2 linked regions of the Homo sapiens genome follow. The protein of the gene in region 1 interacts with the protein of each later gene in a pairwise test. Each region holds a gene or a part of one and is shown in the gene's direction. Other genes may lie near its edges.

The links. The genes of interacting proteins can lie anywhere in the genome.
Region 2: the proteins of PBXIP1 (region 1) and DEF6 interact in binary tests that used the Homo sapiens proteins (3 or more experiments, as listed by UniProt).

What each region holds. Positions count from the first base shown.
Region 1 is NC_000001.11:154,952,625-154,960,598, reverse strand, and holds the start of PBXIP1 (pre-B-cell leukemia transcription factor-interacting protein 1), read left to right. Parts: upstream 1-4,499; 5' UTR 4,500-4,530; intron 4,531-6,841; 5' UTR 6,842-6,877; coding exon 6,878-6,928; intron 6,929-7,974. Other genes in the region: PYGO2 (pygopus homolog 2), read left to right, coding at 753-1,820. UniProt on the Homo sapiens protein: Regulator of pre-B-cell leukemia transcription factors (BPXs) function. Inhibits the binding of PBX1-HOX complex to DNA and blocks the transcriptional activity of E2A-PBX1.
Region 2 is NC_000006.12:35,314,636-35,322,110, forward strand, and holds the end of DEF6 (differentially expressed in FDCP 6 homolog), read left to right. Parts: intron 1-3,255; coding exon 3,256-3,364; intron 3,365-3,537; coding exon 3,538-3,836; intron 3,837-4,888; coding exon 4,889-5,055; intron 5,056-5,183; coding exon 5,184-5,382; intron 5,383-6,248; coding exon 6,249-6,339; intron 6,340-6,551; coding exon 6,552-6,775; 3' UTR 6,776-7,136; downstream 7,137-7,475.

The sequences.
Region 1 (7,974 bases):
TCTGGGGGTTAAAAATGTTAAATACATGCTCCACAGTCTTGAGGTTGTTTTTCAGGGTCAGAGCTGGGATTCCATCCTAGTTCTGCCTGTTTTTAAAACATAGTTACTGCACTATGTTGGTTCCACTCTCCACCCTCTTTTTCTTGTCTTTTTTTTTTTCTTTTTTCTTTTCTTTTCTTTTCTTTTTTTTTTTTTGTAGTAACAGAGACTTGCTGTGTTACTACTCAAACTCATGGGCTCAAGGGATCCTCCTGCCTCGGCTTCCCAAAATGTTAGCATTACAGGTGTGACCCACTGTGCCTGGCCTGTGGTCCATTTTTTTTTTTTTTTTTTTGAGACGGAGTCTTGCTCTGTTGCCCAGGCTGGAGTGCAGTGGTATGGTCTTGGCTCACTGCAAGCTCCGCCTCCTGGGTTCACGCCATTCTCCTGCTTCAGCCTCCCGAGTAGCTGGGACTACAGGCGCCCACCACCACGCCCGGCTAATTTTTTTGTATTTTTAGTAGAGACGGGGTTTCACCGTGTTAGCCAGGATGATCTCGATCTCCTGACCTCGTGATCTGCCCGCCTTGGCCTCCCAAAGTGCTGGGATTACAGGCGTGAGCCACCGCACCTGGCCTGTGGTCCATATTGATTTTAGACCTGAGCTGCCCACAGTATCAGCCTCCAAAATGTGTATTGTGTTGGTAGTGCTCTCTTGGTTTAGCTCTGTGTTTCCCTCCATGACCCTCTTTCCCTCAACTGTTTCTCACTAGGGCCCTGCATACTCACATCTGACGGAGTTTGCACCACCCCCAACTCCCATGGTGGATCACCTGGTTGCATCCAACCCTTTTGAAGATGACTTCGGAGCCCCCAAAGTGGGGGTTGCAGCCCCTCCATTCCTTGGCAGTCCTGTGCCCTTCGGAGGCTTCCGTGTGCAGGGGGGCATGGCGGGCCAGGTACCCCCAGGCTACAGCACTGGAGGTGGAGGGGGCCCCCAGCCACTCCGTCGACAGCCACCCCCCTTCCCTCCCAATCCTATGGGCCCTGCTTTCAACATGCCCCCCCAGGGTCCTGGCTACCCACCCCCAGGCAACATGAACTTTCCCAGCCAACCCTTCAACCAGCCTCTGGGTCAAAACTTTAGTCCTCCCAGTGGGCAGATGATGCCGGGCCCAGTGGGGGGATTTGGTCCCATGATCTCACCCACCATGGGACAGCCTCCCAGAGCAGAGCTGGGCCCACCTTCTCTGTCCCAACGATTTGCTCAGCCAGGGGCTCCTTTTGGCCCTTCTCCTCTCCAGAGACCTGGTCAGGGGCTCCCCAGCCTGCCGCCTAACACAAGTCCCTTTCCTGGTCCGGACCCTGGCTTTCCTGGCCCTGGTGGTGAGGATGGGGGGAAGCCCTTGAATCCACCTGCTTCTACTGCTTTTCCCCAGGAGCCCCACTCAGGCTCCCCGGCTGCTGCTGTTAATGGGAACCAGCCCAGTTTCCCCCCGAACAGCAGTGGGCGGGGTGGGGGCACTCCAGATGCCAACAGCTTGGCACCCCCTGGCAAGGCAGGTGGGGGCTCCGGGCCCCAGCCTCCCCCAGGCTTGGTGTACCCATGTGGTGCCTGTCGGAGTGAGGTGAACGATGACCAGGATGCCATTCTGTGTGAGGCCTCCTGCCAGAAATGGTTCCACCGTGAGTGCACAGGCATGACTGAGAGCGCCTATGGGCTGCTGACCACTGAAGCTTCTGCCGTCTGGGCCTGCGATCTCTGCCTCAAGACCAAGGAGATCCAGTCTGTCTACATCCGTGAGGGCATGGGGCAGCTGGTGGCTGCTAACGATGGGTGACGCTGGTGAAGTGGCCCAGGGAAGTGCACATGTCTCTCCCTGCTCTTCCAGGGTGATTTTTTTGATGTTTGGCTCTTGGTCCTTGTTTCCACTGGCTTTCCATCCCCATGGGGCAGAAACAGTGGCTCCTGGGAGCAGAAAAGGAATTGAGGTGGGCAGGCAGAAGAGCCTGGATTGCTCACTGTTTTGGGAAACTTACATGTTGAGATCTACAGAGATCCAGGAAACCAAAGCCCTGCTGAGCAGAGCCATTTTGTGGCTATTTCTGGAGGCCCAGGAGTGTGGCTGCAAGAGAAAAGGGGCTGGAGGAAGATCCGGAGGGCAGGGGTGTTCCCTCTGCTGATGATGGATGCCCCTAACACCTGTGCCTAACACCCCTACTGAACCCCACAGCTCCAGCCTTAGTTTTTGGAGTCAAGTGTTAAAGGTTTCTGGCCAGAGGAATTGGGGTCTTGCCATCCCTGCAATAGCCCTTTTATGGGCTCTGGGAGACAGCTTTAGGGAATAAATGGGGATTTTCCCCTTTTTCTACCCACTCCTTTGCTTCCTCCAAGACTTACCCAACTCCTTCCCCCTCAGAGAACCAAATAGCCTGAGGAAGCAGGAGAGTTCCTGGTTATGGCAGTTTCTTGGTGATTTGGGGCTTCAAGACAGTAGGTGAGAGATGCTGTCAGGACGTATCTTCTTCATACCAAAGTCACTGGTCCTTTCTCAGCCTCTCTCGTGCTTTTCTCCTAATGACCATATTTTTGCCAAAAATTGGGATATGTTATCTGACAGACCAGAATATTTGAAGTTTGGGCTGTCCTGAAAGTCTGGACTTTGGTGGTACCCTCCTCCCCCAGCCCATCTGTTGCACATTATACTCCGTGTGTTCTTCAACTTTCGGCGCCCTTATTCCCCTGCCTTCCTGGCTTGATTGAAGGAAAGCTTGAAAAGGCGCAGAGCCCTATACCTCATTTCCTCCATGATAAAAGGATCCAAGTGAGGCCCTGTCACAGCCTGTGGGTAGGGGATGCGGCGGGATCCTCATTGCCATGGTACTCAAAGGTAGAAGAGCCTGGAGTTTGTTGCTTCTCTTTGCTATTCTTTCATATCCTCTTGGGCCTGGTGATTAATTAGCAATTCTCATTCCTCTCAGCCAAAGGCCTGCACTGGGCTTTATTTGTCTTTTTTTATTTTTTAAGCACTGCCTGCCAGAGATGGGCCTGGGGCCTGATGAGGACCTTAGCGCTGCTCGTTCTCCTTTTCTGTTCATGCACACATTCCTCCATGGGGTGGGGAAGGCAGGCATGGGGTGTGGCCCTCGGAGAAGTTAGGAGTCCCCCAGCTCAAGATACAGTGGCAAAGACCTAGTGGTCCCCTACCCCCACTTCTCTCAGTTCCTGGCATGAGGAGAGAAGACCCTGCTCTGGTGGAGCTGACAACCTTTGAGGCTGGGAGGAGAGCAGCCTCTGGGCATCGTTCCCAGTGTCCCTCACACTAAAACGGCGTAGATGGCAACCCCCCACCCCCACCCCGCTGCTCAACTCTTGTGTTTGTTGTTCTGTTTGCCCCATTTATCTGTTGCTGTTTTTGTGTTGTCTTCCCCTGCTCCGCATTTTGTAAAATGGCCCCTGGGGGAGTGTTTTTGCTGGATCTGCTCCCTCTCGCTCTCTCACTCCACTACTTTTTGGAACAAAGTGATGGCAGAATGCGGTGGTGGTGGGGGTCTTTTGTACTGTTGGATTAATAAAATGATTTTAAAATCCCAGACAAGGACTCCTTGCTGTTGCTGTGTGAAAAGGCTGGAATGAGCCGCTGTCACTGCTGGGTAGGGTGCTTAGGGGTTGAGGATATGTATGCTCCCCAGGGTCCCTGGGAGTGGGAATGGCAGATTTGGCCCCTGAGCTGACCCTGGTATAAGCTGCTGAGCCAAGGGAGGCCTGTGTTTCCCCGCCCATCCCCCTGTGTCTCCACTGTGAGAAACTGAGTTTCCTTTTTGAGCATATTCCTGGGCCAGGCCTGGAGCCAGGCGGATTTGGCACCACAGCCTCTGGAAGACAAGTGCTTGAGCTCTTCTGGGTTTAGCACCCCACCCACCTCCCAGTTGTTTGGGTTAGGGAGCAAGTGTCGCTCTAAGGGTGAGGGGAGGGGCTGCTTCTGTCCTAGCAAATTTCATTTTGGGATGTTTTTCAGATCGTTCCCGTCCCCCAACCGTTTTTTAAAGTAGCAATGGCATCTTTTAAGCAGTCTGTTTTGGAGCAGATTGGGGAGAATGGCAGGAGGGCTATTTCCACACCCTGGATTTGCGACCTGTCCCTCTCCCTTCCCCCATCTCACAGCTGTCTCTGTCTATCCTGGGGCCAACCTGGCCCCTTGTCTTCGTCATCTCAGAAGACGGCACCGTCTGCTTTTCTCTCAGTTTGTGGGGGTTCCCTCTAGAAACTGTTTAGACACTGGGAAAGAAGGGCAGGAAACTCAGGATTCGGTTAGCTGGGACCCCGGTCGCCCACCAGGAGGTAAGCCCAGGTTTAGGGCCGTGTCGCTAGACCTCCCTTCCCCTCCCCTGGCTCTCAATTCCTGCTCTTATTGGCCAAAAGTTTCCGCCCCCTTGGGGAAGTTGACTTTTCATTGGTCAGTTTCTGGTCACATGATTTTCTTCTCGGGCTGCAAACAAAGGGAAGCCTGCAACAAGTTAAGCTGAAGACCGAAGCAAGAGCTGGTTCAGGTAATGCCTTAGCTGGGAAGGGGTCCACAGATTCGCTTTGAAGGGGGTGGAATAAGGAAAAGGGAAGGCGGAACTAATCTAGAAGGAATGAGCTGCTTTTCATTTCTGGGCTGGGGGAGGAAGGCCAGGTGCCGACGCTAACACAACAGGAACTTGCTCTGGGTACCCCAGGCAAGTGGCCCTAGATCCTTTGCTTTAGCGGTTTGGAGGAGCAACTGTTAGAGGAGTTTAAATTAACTAGAGGCGAGACTTCCTAGCTTTATGCTGAGTGGGAGAGCTCCCCCTTTAGCTGTTTTTTAGAAATAGCAGAAGTCTCTGTCATAATCCTTACAGGAGGTGTTTGTTGAATCCTGCCTGAATGAAAAGAAGGGGGTGGAGGGAGGGAGTGGAGGTGGGTTTTCTTCCAGAAGGTCGATGAAAAGAAAAAGATCTGGAAACACAGCAGGGAAGGGTGGAGATTAGACAGCAGAAGGAACTTCCTAATAAGGCAGTGAGATGCTGGCTTGGGAGAAGAGGTGTTTTTTTGAACCCTGGGTTAACCTAACCAAGAAAGAGGTATCAGGGTTTGGAACCCAGAGTATAGGAGTTTCAGAGTGTCTCCTATTTGGGTCTCATAAGTATTTGTTTTGTTGACCCAAATACCTTTGCTGGTTTCCATGGAGACAGTGGGTCTGACATCACTGTGGTTGCCATGGTGCCTGGTTCTAGAGGACCTGAGCAGGCTGCACACACAGCTAGGGATAAACAGGGACTTCAGCCCAAGCTGCTGCCACTTCCTTCCTGCCACCACCTGTTAACAGTCAGCAACTGGGGATGGGGAGATGATAACAAGGGCGGGGGTGGAGCCACAAGCGGAAGGCTGAACAGCCATGGCTCTATGGATACTTACAGATGCATGCCAGGGTGTCCTGTTGGATTTGGTACAGGGAGGTCATTGCAGCCATTCTCCTGTCTCCGTGTGGAATGGGTGCATGTGTCTGGGAGGATGGGCATTGGGAAAGACCTATCCAGGACTTGGATCTTGACTGGCAGGAGCCACAGGAGGTTACTTAGGGCACCACGCAGGACTTGAAAACAGCTCAAACAGAAGGGGATAATGTGGTTGGTTTCAAAGGTAGAACTGCCATACTCTCCCAGCCTCACTTCCCTTTTCCTGAGTTTTCTTATAAAGTGCTCGGGAAGCAGTCATTTATCCTGTTCTGAGGGATCACAATCCAGTACTCTTGAGAGGTCAGCTCATCTATCCTTCCACCTTTATGCCTGGTCCCAACAGGAGCTGCCTGAGGGAACTGTTTTAGCCTTGGATGAAGGGGCGGATCCCTCTCTTCTTACCCTGCTTTGTGTCAGTCAGGCTTTGGAAACTGGAGTGATTCCCTCCCCTATCCCTGTCAAGTCAGAGCAGATTAACCGGGTGCAGGACCATAGCCCTGATTTTTGTCTATTTTTTGCAAGCTATAAAGTGATGTATATATACATGATAGTTGCCATAAATCCATTTTCCCAGTCACCTTCAAGTTCCCTAAGACCAAACTCTGGCGATTACTAAGAAGGTAAACAGAATTTAGGATGAAGACTGAGAGTGATGAGGAGACTTATAAAAGGTGCATCCAGGTGGATCTAAGCTATGCCAGTGGCTCTTAACCCTGGCTGCGCATGAGAATCATTTGAGTGGTTTTTTAAAAGACCCACAGCCGGGCCTACCCCCCAACTCAATTGAATCAAAATCTTAGGTGATTCCAATGTGCAGCCAAGATTGAGAACCACTGAACTAGACCATACCAAGGACTTATGCTGGGCAAGTGGTGGGACACTTAGGGCTGAAGGAGGCCATTGAGTCTTCCCTTCCAGGTCCTGGGGGAGAAGGTAGTGATTGTGTAGGTACCTGGTGTTGTGAAGGGAGGGCTGTGTTGTTTCCCTGCTCTTCTTATTAACAAGTCTTCTTATTGGCAAGTTGAGTCTGTCAACCTTGCTGGGCTTCATCTTCCCTGACTCAAATGTCAGGGGGCTGGACTGGAATTCCCCAGAGCCTTTCCAGCCTATGCTACTTTGACCTTTCAAGGTCAGTTCAGTTTTCCAAGGCCCTGTTGGTCCCTGGAAGAGGCTGGCTTCTCTGTGGGTGTTGGCAGATTCTGATTTGCAAGGCAAATACTGCTTAGAAGAGCTGGGGTGTCAGGGAGAGAAGGACTGGAACCAGGCTTGGTTCTGGAGGCTGCTGCCCAGCACTTGAACCTTGGAACCCAGCCAAGGCTGCTTTCTGCATTCTGCCCCTCCTGAAGGGAGCTCCCATCCTTAAGAGAGCTTTCTTCTGCAGGTGGCAGCCACAGCAGCCTCAGGGACCTCAGCAACTATGGCCTCCTGCCCAGACTCTGATAATAGCTGGGTGCTTGCTGGCTCCGAGGTAGGAAGAGCGGGCCTGGGAACCATGGGGGTGGGGTTGGGGGGTGTTTCTGCAGTGCTGGGCTTCTTTCTTGGTGGGTCCTTTTCCTTAGTCCTGATGGTCACCTACATCACTTCCTGCTGGCTGTTAGAGGAATTCCAGTAGCAGGAAGAAGTAGATCAGGCCCCAGGGGTCAGGTGTTGGCACTTGGACCATGCCATGAAGGAAGGGACCAGTTGGGTAAGCTGAGACAAGTAGGGATGGATTTCGAATGGAGAGACCAATGTGAACAAAGGTCCTGAGGCGATAGTGGGGAACGCCATGCTGGGGGAGACTGTGGGACACCCATGGGTGATGTGGAGACGTGGGTTGGAGCCAGTGTTGGAGTGAGGTTGGGGACAGAGCCTGGGAACCCCTGGAAGAGACCGGAAGAGCCTGGCTGAGGCCTTCAGGCCTCATCCTGATGGGAAATCAGTGTGGGGCTTTGGGTTAGAGGGATCAGGACAATCATTGTCTCAGGCAGAGGGTGAAGCCACTGTGCATGCTGGGTGGGAACAGGGAGAGAGTGTTTCAAAGACCCCCTGCAGCAGTCCAGGTAGCAGCTGGTGGGGCAGAAGCCCACTGAGGAGGGAGAAGGGGGTTGGCAGGATGGGGAACTGAGTGGCTAGAGAAGGGATGGCAAAAATTTGTCAAAGGCATCTCTGAGAGTTCCAAGACGTAGCGACTTTGTATATTAGAGCCACCAGGAGGGGAGGAGGAGAGAAGCTCAGTTTCAACATGTTGAGTTTGAGGTGCCCTTGAGGAACCCAGCTGGGAGTAAGGAGTTGACCTTGGGGATGACGCTGGAGCAAGATAATGGACTGGGGCTCACTGGCAGAGGGAAGGCAGGTATGAGCAGACGGGCACCAGGCTCTCAGAGCCCTGGCCTCCTGTTGAGGTGTCTTTGTTGACAGCTGGGGGACCTTGGGCATGCCATTTCACCTCTCTGTCCTCTCCTGTAAAACGGGCGTCATGATTTTTGCCTTGTAGGGGGGACCATGAGAATAAAAATGTTTTGAAAATAGCAA
Region 2 (7,475 bases), on another chromosome or scaffold:
TGTTTGAGCTCCTTATATATTCTGGTTATTAATCCCTCGTCAGATTGATACTTTGCAAATATTTTCTCCTATTCTGTGGGTTGTCTCTTCACTTTGTTGATTGTTTCCATGGCTGTCCTGAAGCTTTTTAGCTTGACATAATCCCATTTTTCTATTTTTGGTTTGGTTGCCTATGCTTTTGAGGTCTTCCACAAAAAATCTCTTTGCCCAGACCAATGTCCTGGAATATTTCTCCAATGTTTTCTTCTAGTAGTTTCATAGTTTCAGGTCTTACATTTAAATGTTTAATCCATTTTTATTTGATTTTTTTATATGGTGAGAGATAGGGGTCTAGTTTCATTCATCTGCATGTGGTTATTTAGTTTTCCCAGAACCATTTATTGAAAGGACTGTTCTTTCCCCATTGTGTGTTCCTGGAGCCTTTGTCAAAAATGAGTTCTCTGTAAATGCATGGATTTATATCTAGGTTATCTATTCTGTTCCATTGGTCTTTGTGTCTCTTTTTATGCCAGTACTATGCTGATTTGGTTACTATAGCTTTGTACTACATTTTGTTTTTTTGTTTTATTTTAGAGACAGGATTTTTCTCTGGTGTCCAGGCTGGAGTGCAGTGGTATGATCATAGGTCACTGCAGCCTCAGTCTCCTTGGGCTCATGGGATCCTCCTGCTTCAGCCTCCTGAATAGCTGGGGCTATAGGTGTGTACCACCGTGGCCAGTTCGTAGTGTATTTTGAAGTCAGGAAATGTGATGCCTCCAGCTTCGTTCTTTTTACTCAGGCTTACTTTGGCTATTTGAGGTCTTTTGTAGTTCCGTATAAATTTTAGGATTTTTTTTCTATATCTATGAAGAATGCCTTTGCTATTTTGACAGAGATTGCACCAAATCTATAAATTGCTTTGGGTAATATTGTTATTTTAACAATATTAATTTTTCCAATACATAGCATGGGATATCTCTCCATTTTTTTGCATCCTCTTCAATTTATTTCATCAGTTTTATAGTTTTTCTTGTATAGATCTTTCACTTTGGTTACATCGATTCTTAGGTATTTTACATTCTTTGTAGCTGTTGGAAATGGGATTGCACTCAACTTCTTTTTCAGATTGTTTGCTGTTAGCGTATACAAATGCTACTGGGTTTTGTATGTTGAATTATCCTGCAACTTTACTGAATTCATTCATCAACTCTAACGGTTTTTTGTTGGAGTCCCTTTTTTTTTTTTTTTTTTTTTTGAGGAGGAGGAGGAGTCTTGCTTTTATCGCCCAGGCTGGAGTGCAATGGCACGATCTCAGCTCACTGCAACCTCCGCCTCCCGAGTTCAAGTGATTCTCCTGCCTCAGCCTCCCAAGTTAGCTGGGATTACAGGCACCTGCCACCACACCTGGCTAATTTTTTTTTTTTTTGTATTTTTAGTAGAGACAGCATTTCACCGTGTTGGCCAGGCTGGTCTCAAACTCCTGACCTCAGATGATCTGCCCACCTCGGCCTCCCAAAGTGCTGGGATTACAGGTATAAGCCACTGTGCCCGGCCTTTTTTTTTTTTTTAAGAGAGAGACAGGATCTCACTGTATTGCCCAGGCTGGTGTCGAACTCCTGGCCTCAAGCAATCCAACCACCTCAGCTTCCCAAAGTGTTAGGATTACAAGTGTAAGCCACCACGCCCCATGGAGTCTTTAGATTTTTCTAAGTAGAAGACCATGCCATCTGCAAACAAGGCTAATCTGACTTCTTCATTTCCAGTTTGGATGCCCTTCATTTCCTTCTCTTGCCTAATTGCTCTGGCCAGAACTCCCAATACTACATGGAATAAAAGTGGTAAAAGTGGGCATCCTTGTCTTGTTCCAGATCTTAGAGGAAAGGCTTTCAATTTTTCTCCATTTATTACAATGTTAGCTGTGAGTTTGTCATAGATAGCGTTTATTATTTTAAGGTATGTTGCCTCTATACCCAATATTTTAGGGCTTTTATAACACGATGTTGAATTTTTTTAGAAAGCTTTTTCAGGGTCTATTGAAATGATCATATATGGTTTTTGCTCTTGGTTCTGTTACTATGATGTGTCATGCATATTGATTTGTGCATGTTGAACCATCCTTGCATCCCTGGGATGAATCCCATCTGATCATGGTGAAAGATCTATACTCACAATATTGTACAACCATCACCACTATCTATTTCCAAAACTTTTTCATCACACCAAACAGAAACTCTGTACCTACCAAGCAATAACTCCTCATACTCCCTGACCCCAGCTCCTAGTATCCTCTATTCTGCTTTCTGTCTCCATGAATTTGCCTTTTCTAGGTATCTTACATAAATAGAATCATAAAATATTTGTCCCTTTGTGTCTGGTTTCTTTTACTTAGAAATGTTTTCAGGCTTCATCTATGTTGTCAAATATATCAGAATTTCATTCCTTTTTAAGGCTGGATAATATCCCTAACAGTGTGTGAGGATCTCAGTTTCTCCATTTCCTTACCAACAGTTGTTTTTCCTTTTAAAAAATTATCATAGCCATCCTAGGATCTGTCTAATTTTGTCACATAAGGTGTTACTGTGGAAAGGAGCACGGATCTACGCAGAAGTCCAAGCCTCATCACTAACAGACTAACAGTGTGAGGTGGACAATCCTGGAGCTCTTAGTGCCTCAGTTTCTTTCTCTGTAAAGTGGAGCTAATAATGCCTGCCTGGCAAAGCTGTATAGGTGGAGTGAAGATAATGATGCATATAAAATACTAGTACAGACTCTAGAATGTGGTAGCTATTATTTTCCACAGAATGTAAACTTAATGGAGGCAGAGATTTGGTCTGTTAGGCACACCTTAGTATCCCAACCCCTGGAGCAGTGAGTGGCACTCAGTAGGCACTCCAAAAACATCTGCGGAATGAATGAATGAACTCTTAACAAGCAGGGCTATGTGGAAGTGAGTTGTCATGGATAGTGAGGACCCTGTTACTGGCAGTGTTCAAGCGTGATCTGCATAAACACTGAGTGGCGATTATGTACTGGGCCCCGTGGAATAATAGCAAGATGGAAACGCACCCACCTAGCCTTCAAAGAGCAAAGGCTACAGAGTTGTGGGGACTTAAGTCCCCCATAACTTATGATGCAAGCCATGCAGGCTCCTGGCAGAGTGGGGTCCCCAGGGAAGATAGCCAGGAGGGCTAGGGGCTTGAGCTGGAGCACCCTTGGGGCAGGTGGGGCCCTGACCCAGTGAGGCCAGCCTGGCTGCGGCCACCTACCCTGTGCCAGGTGCTGCCAGACCGCGACGGAAAGCGCTGCATGTTCTGTGTGAAGACAGCCAACCGCACGTATGAGATGAGCGCCTCAGACACGCGCCAGCGCCAGGAGTGGACAGCTGGTGAGTGCTCGCTAGGTGGCTTGGGTCTGGGTGGTCCTTAGGCGCCTCATCTGTGAAAAGGGGGTGATAATACTTTGTCCAGCGGGAGGTTGGAGAGTGGACTCGGGAAACTCCTAAGGCCCCTTTCGGGCCGTGTGCGAGGATCCTACTGACCCGCTCCCGCTCTTCGGCAGCCATCCAGATGGCGATCCGGCTGCAGGCCGAGGGGAAGACGTCCCTACACAAGGACCTGAAGCAGAAACGGCGCGAGCAGCGGGAGCAGCGGGAGCGGCGCCGGGCGGCCAAGGAAGAGGAGCTGCTGCGGCTGCAGCAGCTGCAGGAGGAGAAGGAGCGGAAGCTGCAGGAGCTGGAGCTGCTGCAGGAGGCGCAGCGGCAGGCCGAGCGGCTGCTGCAGGAGGAGGAGGAACGGCGCCGCAGCCAGCACCGCGAGCTGCAGCAGGCGCTCGAGGGCCAACTGCGCGAGGCGGAGCAGGTGGGGTTAGCTCCCGGCGCCGGGGACGGGACCGGTGGGCTGGGAGGCTGGCCAGGGGCGGAGCGCCGGGGGCGGGGCCTGGGCAGAGGGCGGAGCTCCTGGGTTGAGGGGCGTGCACTGGGGTGGAGCTTGAAATGAGGGATTGTTGGGACAGAGTCCGCGGGTTTGAAAAAGAGATTTGGGATGGGGCTTCCGCCAGGGACAGAACCTGGGGCTAGGAAAGGGGTGTGGGGCGAGGTCCGAGCCCGTGGATGGATGGGGCCTGGTTCGGAGACCTTGGCTGTGGGTTGGGGCTTGGGCAGAAGGAGCCGTTGAAGACCGTGTGATTGGGGATTAGACTGGACCAAGTTTGGACTAGACTTGAACTAAGTTTACAGTGAAACCAGTTTGAGAGGCAAGCGGGACGCGTATGGAGGCGGACTAGGTGTGCAGAGGCAATTAGATTTAGGATTTAAGAAACCTGGATCTGGAGTCAGAAACACGTAGATTCAATCCTAGCTCTGCTTCTTACGAGCCCCGTGATCCCAGGCAAGTTCATTTTACTGAGCCTTATCAGTAAAATGCTAATGCTAATAGAACTTTGCTCACAGAGGTACGGTGAGGATTAAATGAGGAAACACTTGTAGTGTCCAGTAACTTTTTGTTGTAATAATTGTAGTTATAGTCACATCCTTCCTAGCATCAGCCATGATTATAACATATTATTATATATTATAATAATTATTAAGTTAGTGCTAGGAAGGAGATGACCATATTTTTATATCTTATTTAATTATATAATGTTGTTTAATTACATGTTATATAATTATGATTAAGGTTGGTACTAGGAAGGAAATAACTTGAGCCCGTTTCCCCCACGTGGCATCTGTTCACCGACCATTATCTGTTCCAGTCAGGCTCTCAGAAAGGGGTCAGATCAGGAAACCCCAACATGAAGGAGTTCCCCAGACCCTCACCCCTAGGCAGCTTAGCAACATGCCCACCCCCTCCTCCTCCGCCCCCACGTGCCCCTTTTGACCTGGCTCTTGGTCCACCACCTCCCCCCTCCACAGGCCCGGGCCTCCATGCAGGCTGAGATGGAGCTGAAGGAGGAGGAGGCTGCCCGGCAGCGGCAGCGCATCAAGGAGCTGGAGGAGATGCAGCAGCGGTTGCAGGAGGCCCTGCAACTAGAGGTGAAAGCTCGGCGAGATGAAGAATCTGTGCGAATCGCTCAGACCAGGTAGGCCTGAGGAACCTCTTCTGGTTCTCTCACCACCCCTCCTGGAACACACCCCAGTTTTCCTGCTTGCTGTGCACCTGCAAGGTGCCTTGGCACTAGAGGCTACACAGTACACACTCACCCGGCAGACTGCTGGAAGAGGAGGAAGAGAAGCTGAAGCAGTTGATGCAGCTGAAGGAGGAGCAGGAGCGCTACATCGAACGGGCGCAGCAGGAGAAGGAAGAGCTGCAGCAGGAGATGGCACAGCAGAGCCGCTCCCTGCAGCAGGCCCAGCAGCAGCTGGAGGAGGTGCGGCAGAACCGGCAGAGGGCTGACGAGGATGTGGAGGTGAGGCCTGGGGTGGGATGGGGTGGAGGCTGGCAGGGTGAGCTCATTAGGGCACAGGCTCTGGAGCCAGGCTGCCTTCCCTCAAACCCTGGCCCTAGCAGCTGCTGGCTGTGTGACTTTGGACAAATGCCCAAACTTCTTGGAGTTAGTCTCTCACCTGGGAAACTGGTAATAGCGTTGTTATGAAGATTAAATGAGATGATACATGATACTTAGTACGTAGTAAGTGCTGAAGAAACATTTGCTGCTATCTTTGTTCACATCATTATTAATCTGGGGAAAAATTTTTCCTTCTACCCTTCCAAGCCCCTGTCTTGCTATCCTTGTACTTTGGCTCTACTCCTTGGAGCTTTAATCTCCATAAATTCAAACACAGAAATATGGAACATAGAAAGGGAAAATTCCTCCATGATCCCCCCCACCTCACAACCACTGCTAATGGCTCCGTGAAATGTTGAACAGAGGTTCTTGGATTAGGTGCTGGAAAGGTGGTGTAGTGCAGTGGCTTAGAGCTCAAGTGTATCCCTGGGCAAGTCACTTAACCTCTTTTGAACTTTTTTGTTGTTAACTTCTGCTCTGGAAGTTAAATAAGATAATAAATATGCTTAGCACATCTTAGCTGCTCAATAAACGGAAACTATTATTATGGTTACATTTTATCTTTTGGAAGTCCATGAGTCCCATGAAATTGGAGGCAAACTCTATTCATGTATGTATTAATAACTCTATGAGCATATATGGTTTTTCTCTGGGGAGATGATCAGTAGTCTTGGTCAGATTTTAAGCAGCCTGCGAACCTGAAAAGATCAAGACTCCATGCCATGGATGATGGTTCTGATCACTCCCCACTGGCCCTGTCCCCACAGGCTGCCCAGAGAAAACTGCGCCAGGCCAGCACCAACGTGAAACACTGGAATGTCCAGATGAACCGGCTGATGCATCCAATTGAGCCTGGAGGTGAGAAGGAATAGACTCTGGAGCTTTCCCTGGAGCTGGGAGGGAGAAAGGAGGGAGAAAGGTCTCCCTGGGAGACCTCCAGATCTCCCAGGGCCAGCAAAAGCAGGACTGGCAGTCAGGAGGCTCCCCTCTCCTCTGAGGGCTGAGGCAAGGCCCCTCGCCTCTCACCTTTGCATGCCTTTCTCCTTACTTGCCTGCCTTCTCTCTGCCAGATAAGCGTCCGGTCACCAGCAGCTCCTTCTCAGGCTTCCAGCCCCCTCTGCTTGCCCACCGTGACTCCTCCCTAAAGCGCCTGACCCGCTGGGGATCCCAGGGCAACAGGACCCCCTCGCCCAACAGCAATGAGCAGCAGAAGTCCCTCAATGGTGGGGATGAGGCTCCTGCCCCGGCTTCCACCCCTCAGGAAGATAAACTGGATCCAGCACCAGAAAATTAGCCTCTCTTAGCCCCTTGTTCTTCCCAATGTCATATCCACCAGGACCTGGCCACAGCTGGCCTGTGGGTGATCCCAGCTCTTACTAGGAGAGGGAGCTGAGGTCCTGGTGCCAGGGGCCCAGGCCCTCCAACCATAAACAGTCCAGGATGGAACCTGGTTCACCCTTCATACCAGCTCCAAGCCCCAGACCATGGGAGCTGTCTGGGATGTTGATCCTTGAGAACTTGGCCCTGTGCTTTAGACCCAAGGACCCGATTCTTGGGCTAGGAAAGAGAGAACAAGCAAGCCGGGGCTACCTGCCCCCAGGTGGCCACCAAGTTGTGGAAGCACATTTCTAAATAAAAACTGCTCTTAGAATGAATTATTGGCTCAGGTCTGTCCATCTCTCCTGCCATTTCCTCCCTTCCTCCCTCAAGCCCCGTTATAGGTTCCAAAGAGCAGTAAAAGTATAATAAAGTGGTTAAGAAAGACCCTGCAGCTAGACTGCCTGGGTTCTGAACCTGGCTTTGCTACTTACTAACTGATTGACTTTGGTCAATTTTCTTTATATCTCTGTGTTTCAGTTCCCACGTTGGTAAAATAGAGATAATGACTGTACTTACCATATAGGGTTATATGAGGATTAAGTGGCACACGAGCAAGCACCATTATTAGAATCAGCCAAAAGTGTTTATTGAGTGTCTACTGCAGTTTTCCAGGT